Linked DNA regions of Homo sapiens: region 2 is linked to region 1. The links come from fine-mapping of genetic effects on gene expression. A gene starts in region 1. The other region holds a variant in brackets. All regions are shown on one strand. Distances are between the middles of the regions.

Region 1 (15,859 bases):
GGAGGTATCCTTGACTCCATCACTCCTTCATCCCCTACATCCATCTGGCCACTAACTCAATCACCTTAATATATCTGGAATTCATCCTCTTCTCTCCAGCAGCACTGCATTTTCGGAGTTCTGTCACATGTAATGCAAATGTCTGCCTTACCCCACTACAATTCATTCCTCACATTGCCTCATGAAACTGATGTTAACTTTCTTCCACTTAAAATCTATTACTCATGGATCAACATAGCCTCCAGATTAAAGCTCAAAATGGCTAACACGGTGTGGAAGAGAACTTTCATTATTTACCCTTGTTTACTTTTTAAAGTTGATCTATTCTCTATCTTAACACATTAAGGGTCTATGTCCCGTTTCTAACCTATCTATTTGTCCTCACTGCTTTCTTGTGCCCAGAATGCCTTATCCTCTAACCTCACCAACTAATTCCTACTCACTTTCAAACTTCAATTCAGATGAAAATTCCTCCATAAAGCCTTCTCTGAATCTCCTCAAACCTTGCACACAGTTTTCTCTATCCCCCACTATACTATGTGAACGACTAATTATAATGTTTATCCCATTGTATTTTGGTGTTGTTTATGAAGTCCATGCAATACTGTAAGTTCCTTAAAGATAAGTTAAGGACCTAGCACCAAAGTAGTTGCTGTCTTTGCTGAATGAAGGAATAAATAAAAAATAATGAATACAATACCTTTAATAACTATGAGTCTTTAAAAATCACATTTACTTAAGTGTTTCAACAATTAAAAACATTTAATAAAAAGTTTCCTCCATTCTTCTCCACGTGTATGTCCTAATAGCATATACTAAAATCAGGTTTGGTTACATAAACCAACATGTGCAATGATTGGGAAATAGAGTAGAACTTAAGAATAAATTATGAAAGCAGGTAGGCCAAATAGAAAGGTTTGTCAAGAGAGAAGGGAAAGATACACCCTGGCAACCAAAAAAACTTCATAAAACTACAGTTACAACACCCACAATTACTGTATTACATTTGTTCAACATATGTATCAGCCAAATTAGCAAGAACTCATCTGACCAAAAGGAGATTAGAAGATACCTTCTCCAGTTTAGGAGCTTCAGTGGATGCTTCATTGGTCCCCGGGCAAGTAAAAAGATAAATCTTTAAATAATAGTAATAAACTGACTATCTATGCAAGTTGGATTCTCAATTTCCTTTGGCCTAAAGAAATGTTTTCTTTCATGAACAATGGAAAGCTATACAGTATTTAAAGTCAAGGGTTTTGGAACATCTTCAAAATATATAAAACTAAAGTAACTCAGACTAATTAAATGAAAGCCAATATAAACTTTTAAAATCATAAACACAATTTTATTACTTTCAATATGACCTGAGTAGGGGGAAAAAAAAAAAAAACTATGAGGCCAGAAGTACTTAGAGGGTTACAAAAACTACATTTCAATCCATTGTTTGAAAATAGATGGGCTCTTCCACATCACTTAAAACTTTGTTGTTTCAAATCATTTACATGGAGGAAATTCACAAATATCCCTTGTCCTATCAGCTTAGCAAATCTTGTTTCTTATCATGTGGAAATAGTAACAAAACCTCCATCAATCTATTACTAATTGTGAATCACAGACTTATACTCATATAAGTATACCATACTTTATTATACCATGCATCTCTAGATCTATAGATTTCTCATCTCCTAAAGAAATACTTACTACCCACTTGATCAAAATTTAAATTATCACCCTAATTTTCTTTTTGTGCTTAAACCAAGTTCTTTGTTATACATCAAGAAATACTGATTAAGATCAAGATTTGTTATAGACTAATAATCCTTAAACTATTATTTCCTTACACTTCCTCCAAATATAGTTATTATTTCTCATTGTGGTTTTTTCCCGCTAGAAGGTTAATGTCCTCAGCTCTTGAATTTTCCCCATTAACCTTGCAATCTTGATCAGGTCCATTTCTAGAACTGAAAGATGTAACACCAACGCGGAGGGATCACTTGAGGTCAGGATTTCGAGACCAGCCTGGCCAACATGGTGAAACTCCGTCTCTACTAAAAATACAAAAATTAGCTGGGTGTGGTGGCATGCGCCTGTAATCCCAGCTACTTAGGAGGCTGAGGCAGAAGAATCACTTGAACCTGGGAGGCGGAGGTTGCAGTGAGCCGAGATCGCAGCACTGCACTCCAGCCTGGGCGACAGAGTGACCCTGTCTCCAAACAAACAAAAAAATAGCAAATGCAAAATTTTAAGAAGTTATATTTTCTTAAATTTTCCAAACTCCTAATAGTGATATTAACAATTTAATTCAACTAATCACTTGTGGACAATATCCCAAAAGTATCATGAAGCTAAGAATATTATGTCTCAGACTGTTTCATAAATCATTTTAAACGGGGAAAAAGGCCAAACGATTTACCGGTAAGCACCATCAATCAATCAACAAATGAAAAACTCTGGTTATACGTCCATGAAAATTTTGATTTCAAACTATTTATTACAGGGCGCGAGGCTGTGTTCCGCCTCCTCCAGCTCCTCCTGATAACCTTTTGGTTATCAGGCGTCAACTGGAGACAACAATCAGTTAAAATCCAGTAAATTTGGGGTTAATGAAACAAATGTTAAAATAGATATAATATTGATAAACATTAGCCAAGAGATGGTAACTACCTAACATTGATTAAGTAAGCAAATAATCAAGGCAGAGGTTTTAGCTTCCACTAATCTATAAAAGCAAGTGAAAATGCTTTGAAAATTGCATTTTTATGCAATTGTTTCAATATCATACCTTTGTATGTAACATTAAAAAGCTCATGATTACTTCATTTCAAAATTCAGATGAGTCACAGTGCTTTCTACGCAGGAATTGGATGTGAATCAAAATTGTAAACATGCACTTGCTTGGTAGTCAAAAAGTGAATGTGGACAGATACAATGTTCGTTGACACAGTAAAACATAATCATAAAATGCATCCTGTGTTTTTAAAATAGTTACTTCCTGTTAACACAGTTCAGGAAACATGCCATCTACCCTCCTCTCCTGGAAAATCTCAAAATTATACTAATCCCATTCCTCTTCTTACAGATAGGCCACTGAAACCTGGAGTCATTACTGATACAGTTATCAGGATTACACCCTCAGAGCCACGATGGTTTCAGGGATACTAGAACCTGAAAATAACAAAAAAAAAAAAAATTTCCAACTCAAATCTAGACAATAAAACTAACATATAAACTGGAATAAAACGCAGGAAATGCCGATTTTAATACCTGGTATGAGGCTGACCATTAAGGCATCCATCAAAAAAGTTTGGAATGTATGAATGAATGACTGCATGAAATTGGCAGGATTTCATTCATTTCAAAAGCTCCAAATTCAGGAACCACACTGAGATATCAGGACGCCACAGCTGAAACTAAAACTCATGAAGGGTAAATGCAACATAACTGCACGTCTCCACGCGTTAGCTGCTGCGAAAATTTCAAAACATACATCTAACATACTCTTTCTTCAAGTAATTGCCGCAAGTGCGGACGGAGCCAGAGAACTAGGAGACTGAAAACAGGCCCTGCTCACCCATAAGCCTTTGCATTATAAGTGGACATGATCTGAGTGAGTCACCGGGAATGAGAAGGAGACAGTCACCCCAGGCCAGGCAGGACGCGGCCAGAATCTCCTGCTCTGCCCCCAACTAGGGAACCGGTCGAAGGAGAGTGGGACGACTGCAACCTGCTGCAGCTAAGTATGCAAGGATCGCGCCGACCGGCTTCCGAGTCGAGATCCCACTAAGTCCCACCGCAGTCACCACAGCCAGCCCTGCCCAGGTATCTCGGAGCTCCGTAACCTCAGAAGGCCTAGTCCTCCAGAAGCTGAGAGCCCCAGCAGGACCGGACGAGGGCAAAAAGCCCCCTCCCGGCTGCCCCTCGCCGCGACGCGGCCCTGCCGCCACATGCTCCACTGCCCCGTCTCCCAGCTCAGCCCCAGCCCCGCAGGGCCTCAGCCGCCCTCCATGCAAGCCGACCGGGCCGCAGGCGGCGCGACCCGGCGGCTCCCGAGCAGGGGTGCAGCGGTGGCAGCCCGCCGCCCCGCACGGCTTACCTCCCTTCTGCCACAAGCTCAGCCCAGCGCCGGCTGCCTGACGTGGCCCGCCCCGCCGCCTCGAACGCCCGGGGGCGGGGACTGCAGGAGAGAGCCAATGGGCTGCATATCGCGAGGCCCTGTTCCGCCTCCTCCGGCTGGGGCCCGCCCTCCCCGGCTCGCGCGCACGCGCGTCTAAGGCCCGGGCCGCGCACTGCGGTTGAAAGGCGGCGTGGGCGGCGGACCCGCGCTCTGCAGCCGAGCTGGTGCGGGGAGGGCTGCGCGCGGGGGCTGGCTGTGGAGCAGCACCGCAGTGAGGAGTTAGCCCAAGGAAAATCAGATTAAAGGAAACTGCCTAGAGATGCCACTGCAGCGTGCCCGGGTAGTCCTGTTGGCAGCCTGCCCCTATGCAGCTTTTGGCAATACAGAACAGCTTCTTGGTATTTGGAGATTTTGTTTCTCGGGGGAAATAAATAATACTGATAACATTAAGGATTCAGAAAATTTAAAGCAGACAGCCGACTTGCCGCGAAGACGCTTCGTTCTTCGCCTAATAGCTACTTGGTGTCTTTACTTCATTTGGCCAACACATAACACTGCAGCTCTCCACGCCACTGTGGTATATCCACTTGTTAGATAGTCCTGAGGTAGTTCTAGCCCAAGTGTTTCTGCTGATCTAATCTGGGGGGAATTGGCGCGAGTAATTATTCTGTTACGATTTTGCGCAATACTTACTGAATGATAAACATGTATTTTCTCGTGGGGCGGGGCAGGGGCTCCCACGTGAGAAGGCTGTAACAGACAGACAGCAGCCACGATGAAACACGCTGAAAAGAGCCAGCAGAAAAAAACGAGGAGAGACTGGTATGACGGAGTGGAATTCCGGTTGTGGATGACAGAATGGAAATTTTACGCAAGATGAAAGAGTTAAGACAAATTACTCTAAAAATATCTGACTTAGTTGTTTCTAAACCCTGGGGCACCCTTAGGAAAAAATAAAAATAAAAAAACAAGTGCCTGGGCCTCATCACTTGGTTGAAAAAGGTCTGCTGCCAGATCTTGACATTGATATTTTTCTAAGTTTCCAAAGTCATTTTAATGTGTAGACAAGAAGTTCTGTTTCTCATTTGTAGGAAGAATTTGGTTCCCCATCACCTCAGAAAAGTAATTATGTATCACAGACCGTTAACAGTTTTCCCAATAACCAACTATGCATTCACCCTCTAAGAATTTATCTAAATTAATCTTGGGGCCAGGTGGGGGGGCTCACACCTGTAATCCCAGCACTTTGGGAGGCCGAGGAGGGCGGAGTTCAAGACCAGCCTAGGCAACGTGGTGAAACCCCATCTCTACTAAAAAAAACATACAAAAATTAGCCCGGCGTGGGGTTGCGCGCCTGCAGTCACGGCTACTCTACTCAGGAGGCTGAGGCAGGAGAATCGCTTGAACCCGGGAGGCGGAGGTTGCAGTGAGCCGAGGTGGCGCCACTGCACTCCAGCCTCTGATGGAGTGAGACTGTCACAATCAATCATTCAATCAATCAATATTGAACCTACTTAAAGTTATTCAACCTCTGTTATCCTTTGCTTCAAAGGAGTTTTATAAGGCTTATAATTCCCTTTTTATGGACTTTGATGATACTCTCTTTCAGTCTTCCAAATGCACCAGTATTTCTTTTAGGACTATTTTAATATTTTTTCTTCTATTCCTATATTTCTTGAGGCTCATTAGTCAAAATTATAATTAAACACATAACTCTGTAAACAGCGCTGTTCTAAGTATATAAATTTATTTAATCCACAGAACAACTTTATGAGGCAGTTACAGTTATTACCCACATTTTATAAATAAGGAACCTGAAGTACAGCAAGTGAAGCATCTTGACCAAGGTCATGCACCTACCTAATGGCCAGGCCAAAACTTGAATCCAAGCACCCTGGTGCTCAATGAGTAAACGTACTGCCTCTGTTGTAGAAAGCCTGGTTTTAGGAACACACAGGGAAATGCCCATTTAAAGAATGATATTGAGTCTACTTTTGACACCGTCTTATTATGTTCAGGCTGCTATAACAAAGTATCTTAGACTGGGTAATTTATAAACAATAAAAATTTATTGTTCACAGTTCTGCAAGCCGGGAAGTCCAAGCAAGGTGCCAGCAGATTTGGAATATGGTGAGGTTCCATTCCTCATGGATGGTGCCTTCTGTGTATCATCACAGGATAGAAGGGGAAATAGATTACCTGAAGCGTCTTTTATAAGGGCACGACAGGAGTCCTCATAACCTAATCACCTCCCAATGGCCCCACCTCTTAATCCTGTTGCATTGGAGTTTAGGCTTCAACACATTAACTTTGGGGGACACAAACATGTAGGCCACAGCAGACACCTATCCTAGATTCAGATTTTGGGCAGGATTGAGAAACTTGACCATTAAACTTGGAGCCTAGAACCGATTTGACTGCTTTTACTGCAGATCTAGGGTTAAGCTGGAAGTCCATGGGCTCACCCCCTCCTTCTGGGGTATACTCCTTCCATACAGGAACTGCAATTCAGCAGGGATCATTTCACCTTTTAATTTATTTAATCTAATGCTATACCAGGCACTGTGGTAGGCACAGGAGATACCAAGATGAAAGACGTATTCTAGAGCCTTATGGAGCCAGCTCATTCTGGAGACCAAGTCAGCAGCCACCAGATTTATTTTGACAAGACTAGAGAGATAGGCTTTTAGAACTAGAAAGGATCTCAGAAGTTGCCAGTTCATGACAAAGTTTTCTCTGACAAATTCTGAAGTTAAAAAATATGGACAATGTATTAAGTTTTCATAAAAATAAATTTATTCAATTTAAAGGACTGTCCTTTTCCTGAGATTATGCTTTGTTCTTTTGTTTTGTTTTAATGTTAAAAGTACCCTCTCAGGCCGGGCATGATGGCTCACACCTATAATCCCAGCACTTTGGGAGGCCAAGTGGGAGGATAACTTGAGGCCAGGAGTTCAAGACCATCCAGGGCAACAGTGAGGGCCCCCGCCCCATCTCTATTAAAAAAAGAAAATAGAAGTTTTCTCATATGAAATGATAATAGGTTATACTTGTTGGGAATTTTATTTTAGTAAGCTTAAAGTCTTATGTTGGAACTCAAAATTTTTTTACGCTTCACTGATTTAATCTAATCAAGCCAATTACACAGAAGGGAACTAAAATTCTAAAAGGATACAGGTTCATCTTCAATTCTTCAATGTCATATGACTAATTGCTTTTTGTGGGGGGCTGTGGTTGGGCAGGGCTGTTTTTTGTTTTTGGCTTTGTTTTGGTTTGAGGCAGGATCTTACTTTGTCACACAAGCTGGGGTACAGTGACACGATCATAGCTCACTGCAGCCTCACCTCCTGAGCTCAAGCAATCCTCCCACCTCAGCTTTCCAAGTAGCTGGGTCTGCAGGCACACACCACAGTGTTCGGCTAACATACACATATATTCTACTACTACATTCTAATAAATAAATGTATATATAGAAATGAAGTCTCACTATGCTGTCCAGGCTGGTCTTGAACTCCTGGCCTCAAGTTATCCTCCCGCCTCGGCCTCCCAAAATGCTGGGATTATAGGTGTAAGCCACCATGGCTAGCTGCTAATATGTTTTAGAAGGACTAAAACCCTGGTTCCCTGACTCCTAGTCCTATCCTCTTTCTACTGCATACCTATTGAATAGCTTGCTTTATGCACTGGGATATAAATTTTTAAAATTTAAATTTTTTTTTGAGACAGAGTCTTGCTCTGTTGCCAGGCTGGAGTGCAATGACGCAATCTCAGCTTGCAACCTCCACCTCCTGGGTTCAAGCAATTCTCCTGCCTCAGCCTCCCAAGTAGCTGGGACTACAGGCGTGCGCCACCATGCCCAGCTAATTTTTGTATTTTTGGTAGAGACGGGGTTACACCATGTGGGCCAGGATGGTCTCTATCTCTTGACCTCGTGGTGGGCTCACCTCAGCCTCCCAAAGTGCTGGGATTACAGGCATGAGCCATCGCACCCGGACAATAACAACAAATTGTAAAAGAAATTAAGGTGAAGGCCGGACAAAAAACATTAGAACAGGTTCTAATAGTCCACCTATATTCTTAGCCAGGAGGAAAAAGATTCTGCCTGCCTAATTAATCACGTTAACTAAATAGCTTACTTTCCTTCTGAGCTGAAAGCAAAGAATGGAGCCTGAAGGAATGTAGCTACAATTTATAGTTAAATTTTGATTGAGCTATAACTTAGGAAAGATCAGTTTAACTTAGTTGGGCGAACCTACATCTGATGCAGATGTTTGTAGCTCTCTACAGCTGGTTCACTGACTTTCAGCCTGAGGAATATTTCTGAGAAACAGCAGAGAGAGGGTGGTCCTTCATAGGGGTTACAAGAGAATCACCTTTATTCATGTAACCTGTGGAGGGTGCGCTAGACTTAATTCCAGAAGGCCCAGCTCAGACGCAAATTTCACTTGAAGGATTAAAACACCTTTCAAATCTGTATTTTCTAGACATTGTACATGCAAAACTCTGCCTTTTAAATATTTAAGACAAACTACCGTCTTTAAGAGGTAGGCAGGCAGATAGTATTTCTGTTCAACTCCTTGTATTATTTCCACTGAAGTAGTTAAGCAGTTCTCTATTGTATAAGACCCTTTAGATAAGCACACATTTTGAAGTCAGTGTAGAAGGGCCTACTGACTTTAACAACAACAAAAAAAAAGAGAGTAAGAAAAATGTGCCCACTCCCAAGTCATTAACAGAGCTGAAAAGAATATGCTAACAAAAAAAAGACACTGTAGTCTGAATCCTGTACTGTAAGGAAGGTCATGTCACCCACAGCATCAGGAGAGAGACACAAAGCCTTGAACTCAGGCCCAAGCATGCTGGGCTGGCTCAACACGCCCACCCATTCATCATCAGGCACGAAGACTGGGAGGAGAAATTCAGTACTAAATCACAGAGCTCCAGTGTCAGCACATCACAGAAAGCAATCTATTAGATTTAATTAGATATACGAGTCTCCAATGGCTCCCCATTTCTTTCTAAGTAAAAGCGAAAGTTCTTACAAAAGCCAACAGGGCCATACATGATCTCCCTCCCCTGCACCACACACCTCCATCCCCAACACACACACACACACACACACACACACACACACACACACACACACACACATACACAGACTGTCTGTTGCCCCTTTGACCTTGTCTTCTACACTCCTGCCCAGCTCACTCACCCGGCCTCCTGGCTGCTGCAAGATCTTGGCATTTCTCCCCAGATATCTTTGTGACTCATTCCATCAGATCATTCAAGTCTTTGCTGAGATGTTACCTTCTGGATAAGGCCTACTCTATCAGTCAGGGTCCCAGCAAGAAACAGATGGTACAATCAAACTAGGAAACATTGAAGAGTTTAATAAAAGACTATAAACAGAGGTATGGGCAGGGATTAAAAAGATCACAAGGGAGACGCAGTAACATTGGGGCCCCCAAATCACGCCTAAGCTGAAAGCAGAAAGGAGAGAGTGTAGTTACAAAACACAAAGAAGCTGTGTTTGGGGCATTTGGTCACGTAACACAGCCAGTCCACAGTGATGCTACAGGGAGGGGGTTCAGGGAATTACTATCTTCACTTCCCTCATTCTCCTCTCTCTTGATCTCCTGAAGCAAGGGAAGCCTGTGCTGCAGTTATAGGTCGGCCTCCTGCAGCACTGTGAAGGGGCAAAAAGAGAATATCTGACACACTTACCTTGGTCACCTATAATAGAGATTGCTGTGTAACACACCACCCCAGAACTTAGTGGCTTACAATCACAAACAATTATTCATTCTCAGGATCCTGTGGTTTCCTAGGCAATTCATATTTAGGCTGGTTTTGCTGGTCCCTCCTGGATCTCTTTACATGTCTGCAGTCAGCTTAAAGCTTGGCTGGTCTAGGATGGCCTCATTCACATGCTTGGTAGTTTGCTCAAGGTCAGCTTGGGCAATAAGAATGATGTAGCCATGTATCTCTAATAACTACAACCACTTTTCTTAATAACAAGACAATATCAGATCCTTACTAATATTGACATACATTATTTCAATGTAATCCCCATGCTAAAAATAATCCAAATTTTTATGTGACTCAGTAATGTTCCCAGCACCAAGGGATAGAATATGTTTGATCTAAGCCAGCAATTTCTTTCTGAAATGGACCAGAGAGTAAATTTGCCTCAAGTCTCTTTTTGTTCTTCCTGATATGTTTTTAATTATTGGAGGTGCTGAGAGGATTCAATAAAGCAAAGGATATATAAAAACTTCAATATATCTTCATATACACACACACATACATACATTTTCTTTATCCAATCATCTTTTGACAAACAGGTTGTTTCCATATCTTGACTACTGTGAATAATGCTGCAGTGAACAAAAGTGCAGATATCTCTTTGGGATGCCAGGTTCATTTCCTTTGGAGGTATACTCAAAAGTGGGATTGCAGTATCAGATATAGTTCTATTTTTTAGTATTTTGAGAAACCTCCACACGGTTTTCTATCATGGCTCTGCCAATTTACATTTCCACCAACAGCATGTAAGTGTTCCCTTTTCTCCACATCCTTAACACTTGTTACCTTTTCTAACAGGTTTGAGGTTATATCTTATTGTAGTTTTAAATTTGTATGATGATTACTGATGTTGAGCATTTTTTCCTATATCTATTGGCCATTTGTATGTCTTCTTTGGAGAAATGTCTATCAGGTCCTTAGTCCATTTTTTAATAAGGTTATTTGGTTTTTTTGCTATTAAGCTGAATTCTTTGTATTTTCTATATTAACCCTTTATCACATAAATAGTTGGCAAATATTTCTCTCATTCTGTAAGTTGTCTCTTAATTCTGTTGTTTCCTTTGCTGTGCAAAAGCTTTTTGGTTTGATGCAATCCCACCTGTCTATTTTTGCTTTCGTTGCCTGTGCTTTTGGGGTCATATTCAAAAAATCATTGCTCAGAACAAGGTCAAGAAGCTTTCTTCCTATCTTTGCTTCTAGTAATTTTACAGTTTTAGATCTTATGTTTGAATATTTAATCTGTTTTAGTTGACTTTATCACATGGGGTGAGGTAAGGGTCCAATTTCATTCTCCTACATGTGAATATCCAGTTTTCCCAACACCATCTAATAAAGAGTCGATCCTTGTGTGTTATTGTTTAAGATCAGTTGACCATAGATACATAGATTTATTCGTGGGCTCTCTGCTCTGTTCCATTGGCCTATCTGTATATTTTTATGCCAGTACCATACTGTTTTGATTAGTGTAGCATTGTCATGTACTTTGAAATCAAGAAGTATGATACCTCCAGCTTTGTTCTTCTTGTTCAAGATTGCTTTGGCTATTCAGGGCCTTTTGTGGTTTGTTATAAATTTTATGTTGTTTTTTTCTATTTCTTAAATAGTATTATCAAAATTTTTTAGGGATTGTATTGAATCTGTAGATCATGTTGTGTGGTATGAACATTGTAATGGTATTCTTCCAATCCATGAACAGAGGATGTCTTTCCATTTATCTGTGTCTTCTTTAATAAATGGATTTTGATGTTTGAAAATTTCCTTTCCACTTGCATTGAAATCCAAAAATGCTATTGGAACTTTAGTTTGATTTTGGAAAATATATCTCCTGCAAATGTTTGTGGGAATGGAGCTCTTGCTTCTTTTTAAAACTTTGACAGCACAGGAACTATATTAAGCAGGTTGACATTACTTGTGATTGAAACAGCATTAGTTTTTGTTAAAATGACTTTACCATAATGTGAGTTTTGGACATATGCTCTGTTTGCCTTGTAATTTTATATTGAGAAACATGATGAAGTCTGCCACACAAGCTAATTTTCAAAGCCACTCATGTTCAATAACAGTAATTGAGGGAGGTTCTTCTCATTCCAGAAGTCTCAGGCCTGAGTTTTAAAAATTGCAACAAAACTTTACCGCTGCTAAGCCATAAAACTGCTGTGTGATAGGGCAAATCGGGATATTCAGCTTCTATTTTTGACAAAAGTTTGCAGAATTGATCATTAAGTCCACCAGAGTAAATGAAGTTCACCATTGGAACTTCTGGGTCAGAAACACACAATAGATTCAAACACTTTCTGCAAATTACCTGCTGATGAACAGCATAGTAAGTAACAATGGGCTTTAAGTCTCTCACATTTTCACAAGCTTTATTAATTTGTCCAACTAAGCTTTTTCTTCTCCATACACATTTTTATCACCATAAGTTATAAGGCATCTTAACAGATTCTACTTCAGGTTTTATTAATGTTTTCCCAACATCTTTGAAAATATATTTGCCCATAGTTGTTCTACGCAGACGATTCATAGAGGCTAATTCTTCAGTGACTTTAAACTCAGCGTTGACTCCTTGAATAAGCAACTGAGCACTATTGGTAATACCTGTCAACTCATCAAGAGCCAAGGAAAACCACTCAAAATCATCTACCTTGTTTTGTACATGACTATTGATGTTGCTCCCAGTGTCTTCAACTCTTCAAACAACAGATCTCACTGAAAGGTTAATCGTCTGAAACAAGTTTATTTTCTTGGGAAAAAATTTTTTCAGCTGCTGTGATCAAACATGATTTAATTAACTCATCATCAGTAAACAGCTTTCTTTGCTTGGCCAACAAAGAAGCCACTCAGAAAATTACTTTGGTTTCAACTCTTTTGTTATTTTTGTGAAGAAATTCTGCTGTGATGACGTTTTCCATTGTAAATTTTCACATTTTCTGACCATTGTCTCCCTGTGAGTTGGGAATATTGTGATGAATCTGGGAATATTGATGTATATTATCTTTTAGTACAGGTATAGTATCACTGCACAATAAACACATACTTTGTCATCCAATTTGATAACAAAATAATCCACAATCCACTGTGCCTTAAAAGCATGACACAAAAAGTTCACTTTTCTCTTCTTTTCTTGTTTTGACATGATGGCTATGCTCTGGTATATATTTTTATGTAAAAACTATTCTTAGCTTGAAAACATTCTAAAATTAGGTGATCATCCAGTTTTGACCCACAGACTATAGTTTGCCTACCCCTAACCTAAGCCAACCATGGCTCTCTTCTTCCCCTTTGCCAGATACTTTCCCAGACTTCCTTACAGCAAGTCATGGCCATGTGGTTCAGGGCTGGCCTATGAGACTTAGAGAACTAGATTTATAGAAGAAAAACTTTTTTAACCAGAAAAAGAGGGTCTTACAAGGAAGAAGTCAATTGCCCTTGACTGTGGCTCTTGCATTTTTGCAGAATATGTACCACAGAAGTAATTTGTTCTCTTGCTGCTTCCATAGGTATAGTTCTGCCCCAACTCTACCCCATCTCACCCTGGATTCTGAGACAACCTCTTATCCCAGGAACTTATTAAGTAGGTATTGGGGGGAAATTTTGAAGGAATCTATTCAATCAGGCTTCTTAAATTTCAGTCCTTATAACCATGGGGCAGAAGAAAAGCACAGCTATCATTTATTCAACAAATATTACTGAGTAAATAGTATCAGCTCAACGCCATGCTAAACACTGATTATACAGAGCAAAGTCAAATAAAATCATCATCGTCCTCCAGACATTCAAAGAACACATGGCCTACTTTCTCCAACTTAGCAGGCAAAGCTGACCAGTATCTTTTGATGCAACTTCATGAGAGTTGTTCCAAAGTGGCACCACAGCCTGGACTTCAAAGATGTGCTCTCAGCAAGGGTTGCTAGGGGTCTTAAAAAATTCTCTTCTGCTTACATTCTCTGTCAAGAATTAGGCCTTTGGAACATCTTTATAATATCCAGGCCTAATTGTCCAGTGGTGCGCTGACAGATGTTTAATTAGCAGCTCTTGGTGGAAAGAGATAGGGGAGAAGCTGATGTGTAGTGTTTGCCAACTTCCATGGTATAAATACAGTACTCCCACATGGTCAATTTCCATATGGAGTTGGGAAGAGGTGTACACTTACACATAATTGTATAATATTTCCACCATAGAGACAATAGCATAAATAACCTCAATAGCATAAATAATAATAAAATGTAGAAAAATAATTCAGAAGTAATAAGCTTAGAACATCTAATATATTTATTTCTAATACTAATATAAGATATTTAATTGTAAGTTGATATAATTTGCTTTTTAATAAGGACTGTGTTTAACAAGTAGTTTGCAAAGTTCCTGAAATTTAACAATTGGCTCTTGTGACAAACTGACTGCAACATACCACTACAGATAGACCCAGTGCCTCGCTTCTTATCCAAACTGGTAGCATAAGGTCTTGATTTAGCCTTTTTACCTTAAAGAACAATTGACAAATTTTCAACTAATTAAGAGTAAAGAGGAATGTAGAAAAACTTTTACAACTTGATAATTAAAAAACAATCTAATTAAAGAATTTTATTAATTAGGAGTCGGGCATGGTGGCTCACGCCTGTAATCCAAGCACTTGGAGAGGCCCAGGTGGGCAGATCGCTTGAGCTCAGGGGTTCAAGACCAGCCTCGGCAACATGGTGAGACACCACGTGTGGCACGCACGTGTAGTCCCAGCTACCTGGGAGGCTGAGGTGGGAGGACTGCTTGAGCCTGGGAGGCAGAGGTTGCAATGAGCCGAGATCACGCCATCACGCCACTGCACTCCAGCCTAGGTGACAGAGTGAGACCCTGTCTCAAAAAAATAATAATAATTAATTAAGTATAATTAAATAAAAATGTATAGATATTTCTTCAAAGTAGATATACAAGTAGCTAGTAAATAAATGAAAAGATGCTCAATATCATAACCCCCAGGAGAATGCAAATCAAAGCCACAGTTAGATACCACTACCAGGATAGTTATAATAAAAAAGACAATAAATGATGCCGATGCAGAGAAATTAGAACCCTTACACATTGTCGATGGAAATGTAAAAATGGTGCACTGTTATGGAAAAACAGTTCAACAGTTCCTCAAAGTGTTAAGCATAGAGTTCCGTATGACCTAGCAATTCCAATCCTATGTATATATCCTAGAGAAATTAAAACATAAACCCACATAAAAGCTTGTATTAAAATGTTCATAGCAGCATTATTTGTAATAGTCAAAAAATAGAAAAAACCAAGGGTAAAAACAAACAAGAGTAACTAGGCCTCCTCTTCCATTTCTGTCTATACTGGCCAAAATCTTCCCCAAAATACAATTTATCCCCCTACCATTCTGGAGTGGTTTTCAGACATTCATTGCCACTGCATACTCCAAGCAATGGGAATAAAATCTGAGTATCTTTACTGCTGGTACTGCTAAAAATGTCCATTGGCTTCCAAAATGAATACAAATTGATGCCTAATTATCAGTTTACTTCAATAAGTTATGTATTAGAAACTATTAGTTTATTTAAATAAAAGCAACTTGTAAATAGATTTAAATCCATGGAACTGAAGTTTGGTGAGTCCTGTTGGTGACCTAGATTGTTTAACCAGCTAAACAATAATATTTTAAGTAACATAAGTTTTTCCTGTGGTTCTTTGGTTATTTTTAAAAATAATTTATTTTTGGCCGGGCGCAGTGGCTCACGCCTGTAATCCTAACACTTTGAGAGGCCAAGGTGGGTGGATCACCCAAGGTCAGGATTTCAAGACCAGCCCGGCCAATGTGGCGAGACCCTGTCTCTACTAAAAATACAAAAATTAGCTGGGCGTGGTGGCGGGCACCTGTTGTCCCAGCTACTCTGGAGTCTGAGGCAGGAGAATGGCGTGAGCCCGGGAGGCAGAGCTTGC
Region 2 (16,404 bases), 27 kb after region 1:
GTCTCCCAACCCATTCTCCTCTACCACATTTTTCAGATAACTTTGCTTCCGTACTTCTCAGAGAAGACCAAGAACATCAGAGTGAATGCCATCATTTTCAGTTGCCATTGCCAAACATCTCCACAGCCTCCTTAGCTCTCCAGCTGTGCTCTTAATTCTACTTCTCTAATTTCTCTAAAACATCCCTTCTCAAATTATTCCTCTCTGTCTTAAACCTCCCCTCTTCTGCTGACTCCTTTCCCGTGGTCTATGAACATGTTCAACCACTCCATTTTAATCACAGTCTTGTCATGGAATGTCCCCATAATTTTTGCCCAAATTGCTCTCTCTCTCTCTCTTTCTCTTTGACTGTCTGCCTCTCATATCCTTCTCTGCCATAATTCTTCTTTTATTTCTGTATGCTCTTTTTCTAACTTCTCCAGTCACTATGATCTGACTTCTGATCCTTCTCCCTCAAACCCAAATAAAATGACCCTTGCTGGGGCTACCAGCTTTCTCCTACTTTTCACATCCAGTGAACACTTTTCTGAGTCTGTTACTTGGTATCTCTGTGGCATTGATACTGTTGGCCACTTCTCATCTTGGTCTTCCTTCCATCATTCTAACCAAACTGTTGCTGTCTCTTCGGATCTTCTTTTTCTGCTGATCTCTACATATTGGTATTGAAATGTCCTCAGATTTTATACTGACTTCTTTTCTTCTCACCCTATAGAAATCTTCTTTCTAAGGGATCTGAATATTTTTCCATAATTTTAACTACCAACTACATGAAGAGGCAAATCACCTTGTCAAGATACATGCCCTAAAACCAGACTGTATGGGCTCATAGCCTGACTCTACACTTCCTGGCTGAGAGTAACTTTGGGTATTTTTTCTCTGCCTCAATTTCCTCATCTTTAAAATGGGAATAACAGTAGTTTCTACACCATAGGTCATTGTAAGGATATGTGACATCCAAAGGGTTCAGAATATTGCTTGGCGCCTGATAAGCCCTAGGTTAAGTGTTAACCATAACTACTATTATTGCTGTTATTATTGCTGATGGCTCACAAGTTATTGTCTGTAGCCTCTCTTATCTCCTCGTCTCCACATCTGGATATTTAGCTACCACTGAACCTGTCCATAAGGATGTCCCACAGGTACTCCAAGAAAACATCTCAAAAAACCAAACTCATTATCTTGAAAACAAAACTGAATTATCTTCCTATATTTCTTACTTCAGGCCTTGATGGCATATTATTCACCCAGCCACTTGAGCAAGAAACCTGGAAAATGTTGCCAACTTATCCACTCTCTCTCCATTAATTTTTACCTCTGAGCTATCTCTCATATCTCATTGCACCACTCCGATGGTCACTGCCTTAGTCAAGCCCTTCCCATCTCTTGCCTAGACTGATGCAATATCCTAACTGATCTGCCCACCTGCATCTCACTGCTTTCCAATGCTTTCACAATGCCATCAAAATGACTGCTTCCCTGCATAAAATCTTTCAATGACTATTACTACATTAGTTTGCTACAGCTGCCATAACAAAGTATCACAGGTTGGGTGACTTAGACAACAGAAATTTATTTTCTTCCAGCTCTGGATGCAGGGAAATCCAACATCAAAGTGTTAGCAGGCCTGCTTTCTCCCGAGGCCTAGCTCCTTGACATGCAGATGACCACTTTCTCACCATATCCTCCCATGATCTTTCCTCTATGTGCATACATCCTGGGTGTCTCTTTGGCCAAACTTCCTCTTCTTATATCTTAATCACCTCTTTTTCTTTCTGTCTGTCTGTCTTTCTTTCTTTCTTTCTCCTTTCTTTCTCTTTTTTTTTAGATGGAGTCACTCTGTCACTCAGGCTGGAGTGCAGTGGCGCCATCTTGACTCACTGCAACCTCCTCCTCCCATGTTCAGGCGATTCTCATGCCTCAGCCTCCGAATTAGCTGGAACTACAGGCACACACCACCATGCCAGGCTAACTTTCTTTTTAAATTTTTTTGTGTGGGGCGGGGGGAGGGGAGCAGAGTCTCACTCTGTTCCCTAGGCTGGAGGGCAGTGGTGCCATCTTGGCTCACTGAAACCTCCGCCCCCCAGGTTTAAGTGATTATCCTTCCTCAGCCTGCCAAGTAGCTGGGACTACAGGCGCACACCACCACAGCCAGCTAATTTTTTGAATTTTTAGTAGAAATGGGGTTTTGCCATGCTGGCTAGGCTGGTCTAGAACTCCTGAGCTCAGGCAATCACCCACCTCAGCCTCCCAAAGTGCTAGGCGTGAGCCACCACACCCTGTCACTTAATCACCTCTTTAAAGGCCCTATTTCCAAATACAGTCACATTCTGAGGTACTAGGGGTTGGAACTTCAGCATAGGAATTTGGGGGAAAACAATTCAACCCATAAGAATCACCTACCAATTAAGAATGGAGTTAGTTGCAGGGAGGAGCAAAGATGGCCGAATAGGAACAGCTCCGGTCTACAGCTCCCAGCGTGAGCGATGGAGAAGACGGTGATTTCTGCATTTCCATCTGAGATACCGAGTTCATCTCACTAGGGAGTGCCAGACAGTGGGCGCAGGTCAGTGGGTGCATGCACCGTGCGCGAGCCGAAGCAGGGCGAGGCATTGCCTCACCTGGGAAGCGCAAGGGGTCAGGGAGTTCCCTTTCCGAGTCAAAGAAAGGGGTGACAGACGGCACCTAGAAAATCGGGTCACTCCCACCCGAATACTGCGCTTTTCCGACGGGCTTAAAAAACGGCGCACCACGAGATTATATTCCGCACCTGGCTTGGAGAGTCCTACGCCCACGGAGTCTCACTGATTGCTAGCACAGCAGTCTGAGATCAACCTGCAAGGCGGCAGCGAGGCTGCGGGAGGGGCGCCCGCCATTGCCCAGGCTTGATTAGGTAAACAAAGCAGCCGGGAAGCTCGAACTGGGCGGAGCCCACCACAGCTCAAGGAGGCCTGCCTGCCTCTGTAAGCTCCACCTCTGGGGGCAGGGCACAGACAAACAAAAAGACAGCAGTAACCTCTGCAGACTTAAGTGTCCCTGTCTGACAGCTTTGAAGAGAGCAGTGGTTCTCCCACCACGCAGCTGGAGATCTGAGAACGGGCAGACTGCCTCCTCAAGTGGGTCCCTGACCCCTGACCCCTGAGCAGCCTAACTGGGAGGCACCCCCCAGCAGGGGCACACTGACACCTCACATGGCAGGGTATTCCAACAGACCTGCAGCTGAGGGTCCTGTCTGTTAGAAGGAAAACTAACAAACAGAAAGGACATCCACACCAAAAACCCATCTGTACATCACCATCATCAAAGACCAAAAGTAGATAAAACCACAAAGATGGGGAAAAAACAGAACAGAAAAACGGGAAACTCTAAAAAGCAGAGCGCCTCTCCTCCTCCAAAGGAACGCAGTTCCTCACCAGCAACGGAACAAACCTGGATGGAGAATGACTTTGATGAGCTGAGAGAAGAAGGCTTCAGACGATCAAATTACTCTGAGCTACGGGAGGACATTCAAACCAAAGGCAAAGAAGTTGAAAACTTTGAAAAAAATTTAGAAGAATGTATAACTAGAATAACCAATACAGAGAAGTGCTTAAAGGAGCTGATGGAGCTGAAAACCAAGGCTCGAGAACTACGTGAAGAATGCAGAAGCCTCAGGAGCCGATGCCATCAACTGGAAGAAAGGGTATCAGCAATGGAAGATGAAATGAATGAAATGAAGCGAGAAGGGAAGTTTAGAGAAAAAAGAATAAAAAGAAATGAGCAAAGCCTCCAAGAAATATGGGACTATGTGAAAAGACCAAATCTACGTCTGATTGGTGTACCTGAAAGTGATGGGGAGAATGGAACCAAGTTGGAAAACACTCTGCAGGATATTATCCAGGAGAACTTCCCCAATCTAGCAAGGCAGGCCAACGTTCAGATTCAGGAAATACAGAGAACGCCACAAAGATACTCCTCGAGAAGAGCAACTCCAAGACACATAATTGTCAGATTCACCAAAGTTGAAATGAAGGAAAAAATGTTAAGGGCAGCCAGAGAGAAAGGTCAGGTTACCCTCAAAGGGAGGCCCATCAGACTAACAGCGGATCTCTCGGCAGAAACCCTACAAGCCAGAAGAGAGTGGGGGCCAATATTCAACATTCTTAAAGGAAAGAATTTTCAACCCAGAATTTCATATCCAGCCAAACTAAGCTTCATAAGCGAAGGAGAAACAAAATACTTTACAGACAAGCAAATGCTGAGAGATTTTGTCACCACCAGGCCTGCCCTAAAAGAGCTCCTGAAGGAAGCGCTAAACATGGAAAGGAACAACCGGTACCAGCCGCTGCAAAATCATGCCAAAATATAAAGACCATCAAGACTAGGAAGAAACTGCATCAACTAACGAGCAGAATAACCACCTAACATCATAATGACAGGATCAAATTCACACATAACGCTATTAACTTTAAATGTAAATGGACTAAATGCTCCAATTAAAAGACACAGACTGGCAAATTGGATAAACAGTCAAGACCCATCAGTGTGCTGTATTCAGGAAACCCATCTCACGTGCAGAGACACACATAGGCTCAAAATAAAAGGATGGAGGAAGCTCTACCAAGCAAATGGAAAACAAAAAAAGGCAGGGGTTGCAATACTAGTCTCTGATAAAACAGACTTTAAACCAACAAAGATCAAAAGAGACAAAGAAGGCCATTACATAATGGTAAAGGGATCAATTCAACAAGAAGAGCTAACTATCCTAAATATATATACACCCAATACAGGAGCACCAAGATGCATAAAGCAAGTCCTGAGTGACCTACAAAGAGACTTAGACTCCCACACAATAATAATGGGAGACTTTAACACCCCACTGTCAACATTAGACAGATCAACGAGACAGAAAGTCAACAAGGATACCCAGGAATTGAACTCAGCTTTGCACCAAGCAGACCTAATAGACATCTACAGAACTCTCCACCCCAAATCAACAGAATATACATTTTTTTCAGCACCACACCACACCTATTCCAAAATTGACCACATACTTGGAAGTAAAGCTCTCCTCAGCAAATGTAAAAGAACAGAAATTATAACAAACTATCTCTCAGACCACAGTGCAATCAAACTAGAACTCAGGATTAAGAATCTCACTCAAAACCGCTCAACTACATGGAAACTGAACAACCTGCTCCTGAATGACTACTGGGTACATAACAAAATGAAGGCAGAAATAAAGATGTTCTTTGAAAACAACGAGAACAAAGACACAACATACCAGAATCTCTGGGACACATTCAAAGCAGTGTGTAGAGGGAAATTTATAGCACTAAATGCCCACAAGAGAAAGCAGGAAAGATCTAAAATTGACACCCTAACATCACAATTAAAAGAACTAGAAAGGCAAGAGCAAACACATTCAAAATCTAGCAGAAGGCAAGAAATAACTAAAATCAGAGCAGAACTGAAGGAAATAGAGACACAAAAAACCCTTCAAAAAAGTCATGACTCCAGGAGCTGGTTTTTTGAAAGGATCAACAAAATTGATAGACCGCTAGCAAGACTAATAAAGAAAAAAAGAGAGAAGAATTTAATAGACACAATAAAAAATGTCTTATCTCTTATGGCTATCTGTGATTAGTGATCTTTGATGTTACTCTTGCAATTGCATTGGTGCACCACAAACCACACCCTAGAAGACTTGAATTTAATTGAGAAATGTTGTGTGTGTCCTGATTGTTCCACGCTTCCACAGATCAGACATTCCCCCATCTCTCTCCCTTTGTTCAGGCCTCCTTATTCCCTGAGAAATAACAATATTGAAATTAGACCAATAACCCTAAGACTTCTAAACGTTCAAGTGAAAAGAAGAGTCACTCATCCCTCACTAGCAATCAAAAGCTAAAAACGATTAAGCATCTCAAAAGCCATGGTAGGCTGAAAGCTAGGCCTCTTGCATCAGTTAGCCAAATTGTGAATGCAAAGGGAAAGTTATTGAGGAAAATTAAAAAGAGCTACTCCAGTGAACACATGAATGCTAAGAAAGCAAAACAGCCTCGTTCCTGATACGGAGAAAGTTTTGGCGGTCAGGATATAAAATCAAACCAGCCACAGCATTCTCTAAAGCCAAAACCTAATCCAGAGCAAGGCTCTAACTCTCTTCAATTCTATGAAGGCTGAGACACATGAGGAAGGTGCAGAAGAAAATTTAGAAGCTAGCAGATTGGTTCATGAAGTTTAAAGAAGGAAGTCATCTTCAAAACATAAAAGTGCAAAGTGAAGCTGCAAGTGCTGATGTAAAAGTTGCAGCAAATTATCCAGATCTAGCTGAGATCACTGATGAAGGAGGAACACTAAACAACATATTTTCAGTGTAGATGAAACACCTTTCCATTGAAAGAATATGCCATCTAGAAATTTTATAGCTAAAGAGGAGAAGTCAGTGCCTTGCTTCAAAGCTTCAAAAGACAGGTTGACCCTCTTGTTAGGGGCTGATGGCTTTCATTTGAAACCAATGCATACTTACTATTCTGAAAATTTTAGGGCCCTTAAAAATGATGCTAAATCCATTCTGCCACTGTTT[TA/A]TAAGTGAAATCACAAAGCCTGAATGACAGCACTTCTGTTTATAGCATGGTTTACCGAATATTTTAAGCCCCGTGTAAAGACTTACTGCTCAGGAAAAAAAAAAAAAAAAAGATTCCTTTCATCCTCACTGACAATGTACCTGGTTACACAAGAGCTGTGATGGAGATGTACAAGGAGATGAATGTTACTATTATGCCTGCTAACACGACATCTATTCCGCAGCCCACGGATCAAGAAGTAATTTCAGTTTTCAACTCTTTTATTATTACTATCGTTATTGTAAAGCTACAGCTGCCATAGATAGTAATTTGTCTGGTGGATCTCGGCAAAGTAAATTGAAAACCTTCTGGAAGGGGTTAACCATTATATATGCCATTAAGAACATTTGTGACTCATGGGAAGAGGTCAAAATATCAACATGAACAATTTAGAAAAAGTTGATTCCAACCTTCATGGGTGACTTTGAGGGGTTCAAGATTTCAGTAGAGGAAATCACTGCAGATGTGGCAGAAATAGCAAGATAACTATAATTAGAAGTGGAGCCTAGGGTCGGGTGGCTCACACCTGTAATCCCAGCACTTCGGGAGGCCGAGGTGGGCGGATCACGAGGTCAGGAGATCTAGACCATCCTGGCTAACACGGTGAAACCCCGTCTCTACTAAAAATACAAAAAATTATCCGGGCGTGATGGCACACGCCTGTAGTTCCAGCTACTCAGCAGGCTGAGGCAGGAGAATCGCTTGAACCCAGGAGGCGGAGGTTACAGTGAGCCGAGATCTTGCCACTGCACTCCAGCCTGGGCGACAGAGTGAGATTATGTCTCAAAAAAAAAAAAAAAAAAAAGAAAGTGGAGCCTAAAGATGACTGAACTGCTGTAATCTCATGATAGAACTGGAATAGATGAGGAGTTGCTTCTTATGGATGAGCAAAGAAAGCAGGGTTTGAGAGGATTGGCCCCAATTTCTAAAGAAGTTCTGCTGTGGGTAAAATGCTATCAAACAGCATCACATGCTACAGAGAAATCTTTTGCAAAAGAAAGAGTTAATTGATGCAGCAAACTTCATTGTTGTCTTGTTTTCAGATATTTCTGCAGCCACCCCAACCTTCAGCAACCACCACCCGGATCAGTCAGCAGCCATCAACGTTGAGGCAAGACCCTCCTCCAGCAAAAAGATTACAACTCAATGAAGACTCAGATGATTATTAGCATTTTTATTAGTAATATATTAATAAATATTGTGTTTTATTAATAGCAATAAAGTGTTTTTAATTAAGGTAAGTACTTTTTTTTAGACATAATACTGTTACAAACTCAATAGACTCCAGTATAATGTAAATATAACTTTTACATGCACTGGGAAAAAAAATTCTTGTAACTTGTTTTATTCTGATATTTATTGCAGTGATCTGGAACTGAACCTGTAATATGTCCAAGGTATGCTTCTAATCAGCCAAAATGATAAACCATCAGATTGAAAAAACTTCCAGAGTTAATATATTAAAAGGTAATAATGAATGAGAAATAATACTGTACCTTAGTAATCTTAACTCTTTTCTCTGTATACTTTTGTTTCTCAGCTAATGGTTCTATACTAGGGCACTGCAAAGTTAAAGGATTTTCTGAATACCAGAATTTTACTACTAATAGAGCCATTCTAGAATCTGGCCCTATCCATATTTTAGCCCATTGGCACATGATTTATCCATCTCTCTGTAATAATTTATCAATGCTATTACTAACAAATAGATTAGTAAAGGTTCTTGAAAGAACATAAGAAATATATAGTTCTTCTTTCACCCCACCAATAGTAATAATAACTGAATATAAAATGGTGAATTGTAATATAATTATATTTTATATATAATTATAAAAATAATTATATTTTATATATAATTATAAAAATAATTATATTTTATATATAATTATAAAAATAATTATATATATAATATTATATATTTTATATAAATATATATTATATATATAAAATATTATAATTATAACATAATTATAATATAATAATGGTGAATATAAAATATAACATGGCCATGTGCAATGATTCATGCCTGTAATCCCAAAAGTTTGGAAAGTCAAGGTGGGAGGATAGCTTGAAGCCGGGATTACACGATGAGCCTGGGCAACACAGTGAGATCTTCACATCTACAAAAAATAATAATTAAAAAAAATTATCTGGGTATAGTCCTATCTACTCCAGGCTGAGATGGGAGGATCACTTGAGCCCAGGAGTTCAAGGTTGCAGTGAGCTGGAATCATGCTACTGCACTCCAGCTTGGGAAACAGAGCAAGATCCTATCTTAAAAAAAAAATGGAGAGAGGTATGCCAAATGGATCATAACTAGTATATGTAAAATGGTGGTGAACAGGGCCTAGATGTATCTTTTATATATTCTTGGACCCCATAGCTGAAAACAGATGCAATATATTAAGTCAGTAAACTGCCGGCTGTAGCACCAGACACTTACATACAAGGTTTGACTAATCTTGGTCATCTGTTCAGGGAAGTACAGAACTGTGGTGTAACCATGTCTTCCCGTTTTTATCTCTTCAATGGGGGAGAGGTGGGATAGATGTGTCAGGCCAGATGCTGCTGGAACAAGAAGACAAGTGTCAGAGGGAGAGGGAGGCAGAGCTGAGACCAAGCGTGTCAGAGGGGTCGCCTGCTTTCCTGCCATTTGAAAACTCATTTCCTAAAGGACAGTTACACTGTGCAATGTAATAATATTTTATCACTAAAAAGACAAGGCAGCTCTACACTTACCAGTATGGAACAGGCTCCAAGTCATATTAAGTTGGGGAAGGGTAATGGGTGGAGAACAAAATGTAGTACAATGTATGTAATATGCTATCATATGTGTATATAATTAAATATATATTTATGTATGTATATGCTTACATACACGTAGAACATGTTTGGAAGAATATTGAAAATTTGGGAGCTGGGTATGGTGGCTCATGCCTGTAGTCCCAGTTACTCAGGAAGCTGAGGTAGGAGGATTGTTTAAGCCCAGGAGTTTGAGACCACCCTGGACAACATAGTGAAAGAAACCTCATCTCCATTATAAATAAAATAAATAAAATAAAATAAAATAAAATAAAACTTGCAAACCTTGGGGGAGGCAAACAACGTAGGGCTTCCATGTAAGGCCACACATGATGGAATTACAACCTTCCAGAGGCATCAATTACATAGGCTCTTGCTACTCAAAGGTGTGGTCTCCAGACCAGCAGCATCAGCATTACCTGAGAGTTTTTTGGAAATGCAGAATCTCAGCTTCTATCCCAGACTTACTGAATCATAATCTACCTTTAAAGAGGACTCTCAATTATTTTTTAATTGCATCAAATGTTGAGAAATACTGTTATAAATGCAAAGTGTATCGAGCCTTCTAGAGTTGTGCACTGCATAACCTTCATAACCAAGAGTAAAGGAAAGATCTGTGAGTAAAGGATGGGAAGAAGTCTCTTCACCATAGAGGCTTTTTTTTGTTTATTTTTTTGAGATGGAGTCTCGCTCTACTGCCCAGGCTGGAGTACAGTGGCACAATCCAGGCTCACTGCAAACTCCACCTCCCAGGTTCAAGTGATTCTCTTGCCTCAGCCTCCTGGGTAGCTGGGATTACAGGCATGTGCCAAAACACCTGGCTAATTTATAGAGCCTTTTTGCACTTTGTACATGTTGAGTCATGTGGTACAAAAAGAATTGTAAATATTGTAAGATAAACTAAAGCAAACAGCACTTTACAGCCTAAAGGGGATGACTTTAATAATTGAGAGTAGGCCAGGCACGGTGGCTCCCACCTGTAATTCCAATATTTTGGGTGGCCTAGACGTGAGGATAGTTTGAGGCCAGGAGTTCAAGACCAGCCTGGGCAACATGGCAAAGCTCCATCTCTACAAAAAATACAAAAATCAGCTGGGTGTGGTGGCACGTGTCTATACTCTCAGCTACTCAGGTTGAGGTGGGGAGCTGCGGGATGGTCAATGGGGGCTTAGGCAGGCGGATCACTTGAGCCTGGGAGATTGAGGCTGCAGTGAGCTACAGTTGTGCCACTGCACTCCAACCTGGGTGACAGAGTGACAGCCTGTCTCAAATAAATAAATAAATAAATAAATAAATAAATAAATAAATAAATAAATATTTGAGAGTAACTAATCATTATGGGATAAGACATTGATGAGGAAAGCCAGTCAATGACAAAGAGCATTTCAACTGAGCACAGTGGTGGTAGTTTTTGGAAGCCATAGAACTGTTTCATGCTTATATCTCAAAGAGATATTGGTTACATCGGGACATTAGTTTAACAACTTTTGAAGATAACTAAGTCTGGTATTGGAAAATCCACGTTATGTGTTTGAGTTCCCAAATGGGAGACTAATGCCTTAAGTGTGACTTCTGTTCTACCTCCCAGTCCTCCCACTTTCTGCCCTCCAGGACTTTTGTACTGTGCTGCCATTTATGAGGTAGCACCAAGCTCATATTTTGCTTCAGACAAAATCATTATTTAGGTTGCAGCCTTAGAGTTATTTTATCATTTCTATAATAAGCAAATAACTGCTGTATAAATGAGAAAATGGGGTAATGTTTTAAAATTTAATTATATTTACACTTTAGAATTATATACATTCACATGAAACAGAAAGTGTAAAAGGGGTACAAAGTAAGAAAGCTCTTCTCTATGGCTATAATCCAGTTATACTGTTTCCTTTTCTAGAGGCACCTAATATGAGTTTTTATGTATCTTTCTGAAGATAATTTATACATAAAACACAATTTACATTATTTTACATCCTGTGTTTAAACAAAAGATAGTATACTATACTTACCGCACCTTGCTTTTTCTGAATAACATTAGATCAGGGAGATCATCCTGTATCACATAAAGATGATCCCCATAGCTACTGTATCCCAATGTAGGGATACATTATTATGTATACACTCTATGGGTGAAATCTTTTGGTATTATAAACAATGCTATAATGAGTAATCTATTTCATACATGAGTGAATAAAGTCTCGGATAAATTCCCAGGAGGAAAGCTGTTGAGTTGCATTGTTAATTCTGTGAGATAATGGCAAATTGCCAACTTACACTCAACTAGGAATGTATGAGAACACACTGTCTAATCAAACCTTTATATCTTTGCTAATACAATAACTTTAAAATGATATTCCAGCCATTGGAATTTGCATTTCTGTTTTTGTGAATAAGACTGAGCATCATTTTATATATCTAAAGGTCCTTTCTTTCTTTCTCTTTTTCTTTCTTTCTTTCTTTCTTTCTTTCTTTCTTTCTTTCTTTCTTTCTTTCTTTCTTTCTTTCCTTCTGTCTCTCTCTCTCTCTCTTTCTTTCTTTTTTTGACAGAGTTTCACTCTTGTTGCCCAGTCTGGAGTGCAATGGCATAACCTTGGCTGACTGCAACTTATGCCTCCCAGGTTCAAGCAATTCTCCTGTCTCAGCCTCCCGAGTAGCTGGGATTACAGGCGTCTGCCACCACACCTGGCTAATTTTTTGTATTTTTAGTAGAGATGGGGTTTCACCATGTTGGCCAGGTTGGTCTCGAACTCCTAATATCAGGTGATCCACCCGCCTCGGCCTCCCAAAGTGCTGGGATTACAAGTGTGAGCCACCATGCCCAGCTTGGTCATTTTCTTACTGATTTTCAAATGCTCTCTCTGTATTAGAAAGACTAGCACCTGCCTATGTTATAACTAGCGAATATTTTTCCAAGTTTGTCATTTGTCTTTTGACTTTTTTGTTTATCTTGCAGAACTTTATTTTTATTTTTTATGCAATCAAATTTTTAAATCATTTCTGTTATGGCTTCTGAATGTTATGACATATTTAGAAATAGCTTTCCCATCCCCCAATTTTTTTAAAAGGAAGTCTTTAGAGCTTTCTTCTAGCTCTCTTATGTTTTCATTTATTTACATGTAAATATTTGAGCCAACTTGAATTTGTTTTGAGGTAAGTTAGGAGATACAGATCCAAATTTATTTTTCTTATATTTTCTAGATGTCTATTGGTAGTCCTAATAGTATTTTTATATAAATCATTTTTTTGCCACTGATTCAAAAGGCTGATTTTATAATTTACTAAATTCTGTTTCTGAATATTCTCATTTATTCCACTGATTCTTTTTAAGATATAAAAAAGCTAGTTGACCTTCACACTCTAGGCTTTTCCTACATTTTCCTAGATACTATTGCTTGTTATTTTTAAATATAAGCTTTAGAATTTGATTGGCTGAAATAAAAACATCTTGTCTTTTTATTGGATCAATCTGTGTGTGATAATGTCTTCCTGTTCAAGAATATGCTATGTCTTTCCATTTGTTCAAAGTTCTTTTGAGACTTTAGTTGCAGCTTAATGTTTTTGTTTTTTTTTCAAATAGATTTTCTACATTTTCATTGCTTTTGTAAATGGAATCTTTTTGTCCATTATATCTTCTAAACTAACAGTTAATACACGTTAATGAATTGACTATTCATTTCCGTATGCTAATTTTATACTTAGCCAACTTACTGAATTGTCTTATCATCTGTAGTAATTTTTCAGTTATCTCAAGTTTTTCAGAAATGCAATAGTAATATTTACAAATAATTATAATTTTGCCCTCTTCCTTTCCACTTTTTATACTTCTCATTTCTGTCTCCTTTCTTGTGATGGCTACTGTCTCCAAAATAGTGTCAAATAGAGGTGACAGATATTTTCACCTAGCTCCTGATTTTAATGGGACTTCTCCAGATGTTTCCCATTAACATGATGCTGGCTTTGGGGTTGAAATAGATGTATTTTATATACTATGACTATTCATTGTGCATCAAATTAAATTTAAATGACTAATGAAATCACTCAGGATCTCTTAGAGAGAGAGGGTACCTTGTTTGGTCCAAATTGGTAATATATGGCTGTTTATGACTTATCAAATACTTTTTACATGTATCAATTATCTCACTGGATCCCCACCGTAATCCTGAGTTAGATACCCATTCCAGCATTTTTTTCTAATTATTATGCCTTGTTCTGGCTTCTATCAGATCATTAGAAATGAAGTACAAATAATGAGAAAACATTCTTCCTTTGAAAGCACAACAAAGTGTTCAAGAATAGCAGAGATTTAAAAATAAACTATTTTATAGGACACAGTTTCTAGAGTATTAACAATATGTTCAGTGTCTCCTGTGGCCAAGAGATAGTTCAACCCCCCATTTTTCCTTGTAGCTAAATCAGTGAGTTCCTTATTACTAGAGGCTGAGCCTAAACACGCAAAGTGAGAGCTGGCCTGGAGGAAGAGATTTGAGAATCATCCATGGGCAGGTTATAATTGAAGCCATAGGATTAGATGAGATAATCCAGAATAATGTACTCTAGAAGGAGAAGATAAATAAATCAAAGATGGAAGCCTGGATAAAACCAATAACAAGGGTGAGTAAAAGAAAAAAGGTTCTAAAAAAGGGAATAAAAATGAACAGCAGGAGTTAAAGAGAGGAAAAAACACAAGAAAATTCATTACTAAAACAAAAGGAGAAGGGAATTTCAAGAAGTTGTCAACAGCATCAAAGTCTTCAGAGACTAAAATAATTCCAAGAGTTGAAAAGTATTCATTGTAATTAGCAAAAAGGTGATCACAGGCAAATTTGACAGCAACAATGTCAGTGGATGCCGTGGCTATTGTCTGCCCGGAATGCCTTTCTCTTCTACATCTGGCAACAAATCCTGCTTCTCTGTCCACAGGAGCAGGCACATGATTCAGGTTGTGCTAATTATAGCATCACATCTTCCTGGCTGTAGAGATAGGCAGCATTCAATAGTAGGCATATGGCTGGGCACAGTGGCTCATGCCTGTAATCCCAGCCTTTAAGAGGCTGAAGTGGATGAATAACTTGAGGTCAGGAGTTCGAGATCAGCCTGACCAACATGGTAAAACCCCTTCTCTACTAAAAATACAAAAAATTTAGCTGGGTGTGATGGCGTGCACCTGTGGTCCCGGCTACTTGGGAGGCCAAGGCAGGAGAATCATTTGAACCTGGGAACTGGAGGTTGCAGTGAGCCGAGATCACACCACTGCACTCCAGCCTTGGAGACATAGTGAGACTCTGTCTCATTAAAAAAAAAAAAAAAAAAAAAAAAAGAAGGCGTATGACCCAAGCTAGACCAATCTGAACATTTGCATGGAATTTTTCTGTCTGCAACTAATGAGAAAACATCTTTTTTTCCTTCTGAATGATGGAAATATCAGAATGAAGTAAATATACAGAGATATGTAGAGATGAAACATGAGCAATGGAGAGAGAGAGCAGGCGCATGCACTCCTGTGAAAGAGAAATATCTGCCCCACCTTTTTTTGAATCTTAATTCTATTCACTTAATTCTATGAGCTTCCTTAATGTCCTTCAAATAATTTCCGCTACTTCCCCCCTCTTTTTTTTAGTAACAAAAGAATTAAGATTAATAGATAGAAGTCAGATTGTAATTGGCTTAGAAATGAATGATATAAATACTTCAGAATAACCATAACAAGAAATGGACAGGAACTATATAAGTAAAACTACAAAATTTTACTTAAGGTCATAAAAGAAGACTTGAATAAATGGGAAGTCCTCACACGTTCCTGGGTAGCAATGACTATTATAAAGATGTCAGTTCTTCTCAAATTAATTTATAGGTTTAATGCAACTCCAATCAAAATCCAAATAGGATACCTTTTGGAGCTTGAAACGGTGATTCTACAGTTGATTAGCTTAAAAAAAAATAGAAAAGAGTGAGGAAATTAAAAAAAAAAAAAGGAAAATTGGTGAGGGGAAGAGTGAACAGCTATTAAGCATTCTCCCAGCTAAAAGGATGCAATTGGAGTGGCTCTGTAGCTCTCTCTCCTTGTCAAAGAGATCCTTGCCTCTGGGCACAGGGTCCATGGATATTCTCCCTTTTTCTTAAAGTAACTTAAATAAGTTTTTCTTTCTTTTAACCAAAAGAGTCCTAATTCAAGAACTTGCCCCATCAGACATTAAAACAGCACATAAAACACAGTATTACTAGTGTAAATGTTTATGAGCATATCTTTGAAACAAAATAAATAGCCAGAAATATATACTATCTCTTACTTATAAAACTGATGTAAATAATAAAGTTGACATCACATTGCAATATGTAAAGGAAAAATCATTCAATACGTTGGTTAACTGTGAAAACTTAAGTTAAATTGTCAACTTGCAATATATACTAAAATAAATTCCAGATATTAAATGTGAAAAGTGTTCACTGTAAGACAAACCAATGACTACTAAAACATGTGCCTGAAATATGGCAAAAGTTTGCCAAAGTGCAGGTTAAAAAACTAGGAGTTTATTTAGGGAACTATTTACTTGTTCTTGAGCTGAAGGAATAATTGTCTAAGTATAAAATCAATGGCCTAAACCACAAAGGAATCAACATCGGATATTTGACTACATGAAAAATTCGAGTCTACACAACAGAAGCCATCAAAACATGAAAGGTAAATTATAAAGTAGAAAAATATTTCAATATATCTGACAAAAAGCATGTAGTAGTTTAAATCAATAATGAAAACACTGAAACTTCAATGGAAAAAAGTACAATGTGCAGACAAATCTCAGAAGCAGAAATATAAATACCAATAAATATGTGAAACAATTCACTTTTACTGCTATAATACAAAAAGTTAACAATTTCAATGATATATCATTTTATTCTACTAGAAAAGTTATGAAAATACAAAATTTAAGGCTGGTGAGGTTGTTTCAAAAATAAGCATGATCGTACACTCCTATTAAGAGTCTAAACCAGTATGTATTTTTTA

The links. PIP is the estimated chance that this variant, and not a neighbour inherited with it, causes the effect.
Region 2: its variant is fine-mapped to the expression of FOCAD in whole blood (TOPMed, PIP 0.98).

Annotation. Positions count from the first base shown.
Region 1 is chr9:20,672,528-20,688,386 of GRCh38, reverse strand. It overlaps FOCAD (focadhesin), which reads right to left and starts at 4,128. Exons shown (of 44, transcript NM_001375567.1): 1 at 4,094-4,128. FOCAD-AS1 (FOCAD antisense RNA 1) reads left to right here and starts at 3,637. Exons shown (of 2, transcript NR_121601.1): 1 at 3,637-3,819; 2 at 4,846-5,085. RefSeq lists an enhancer at 3,686-4,426 and a silencer at 3,826-4,525.
Region 2 is chr9:20,644,823-20,661,226 of GRCh38, reverse strand. It overlaps a transcript of FOCAD not described here. Among named protein-coding and RNA genes, the nearest start is that of MLLT3, 31 kb to the right of the region's middle. RefSeq lists an enhancer at 2,482-2,541. The variant TA/A (reference allele first, on the strand shown) is at 6,566.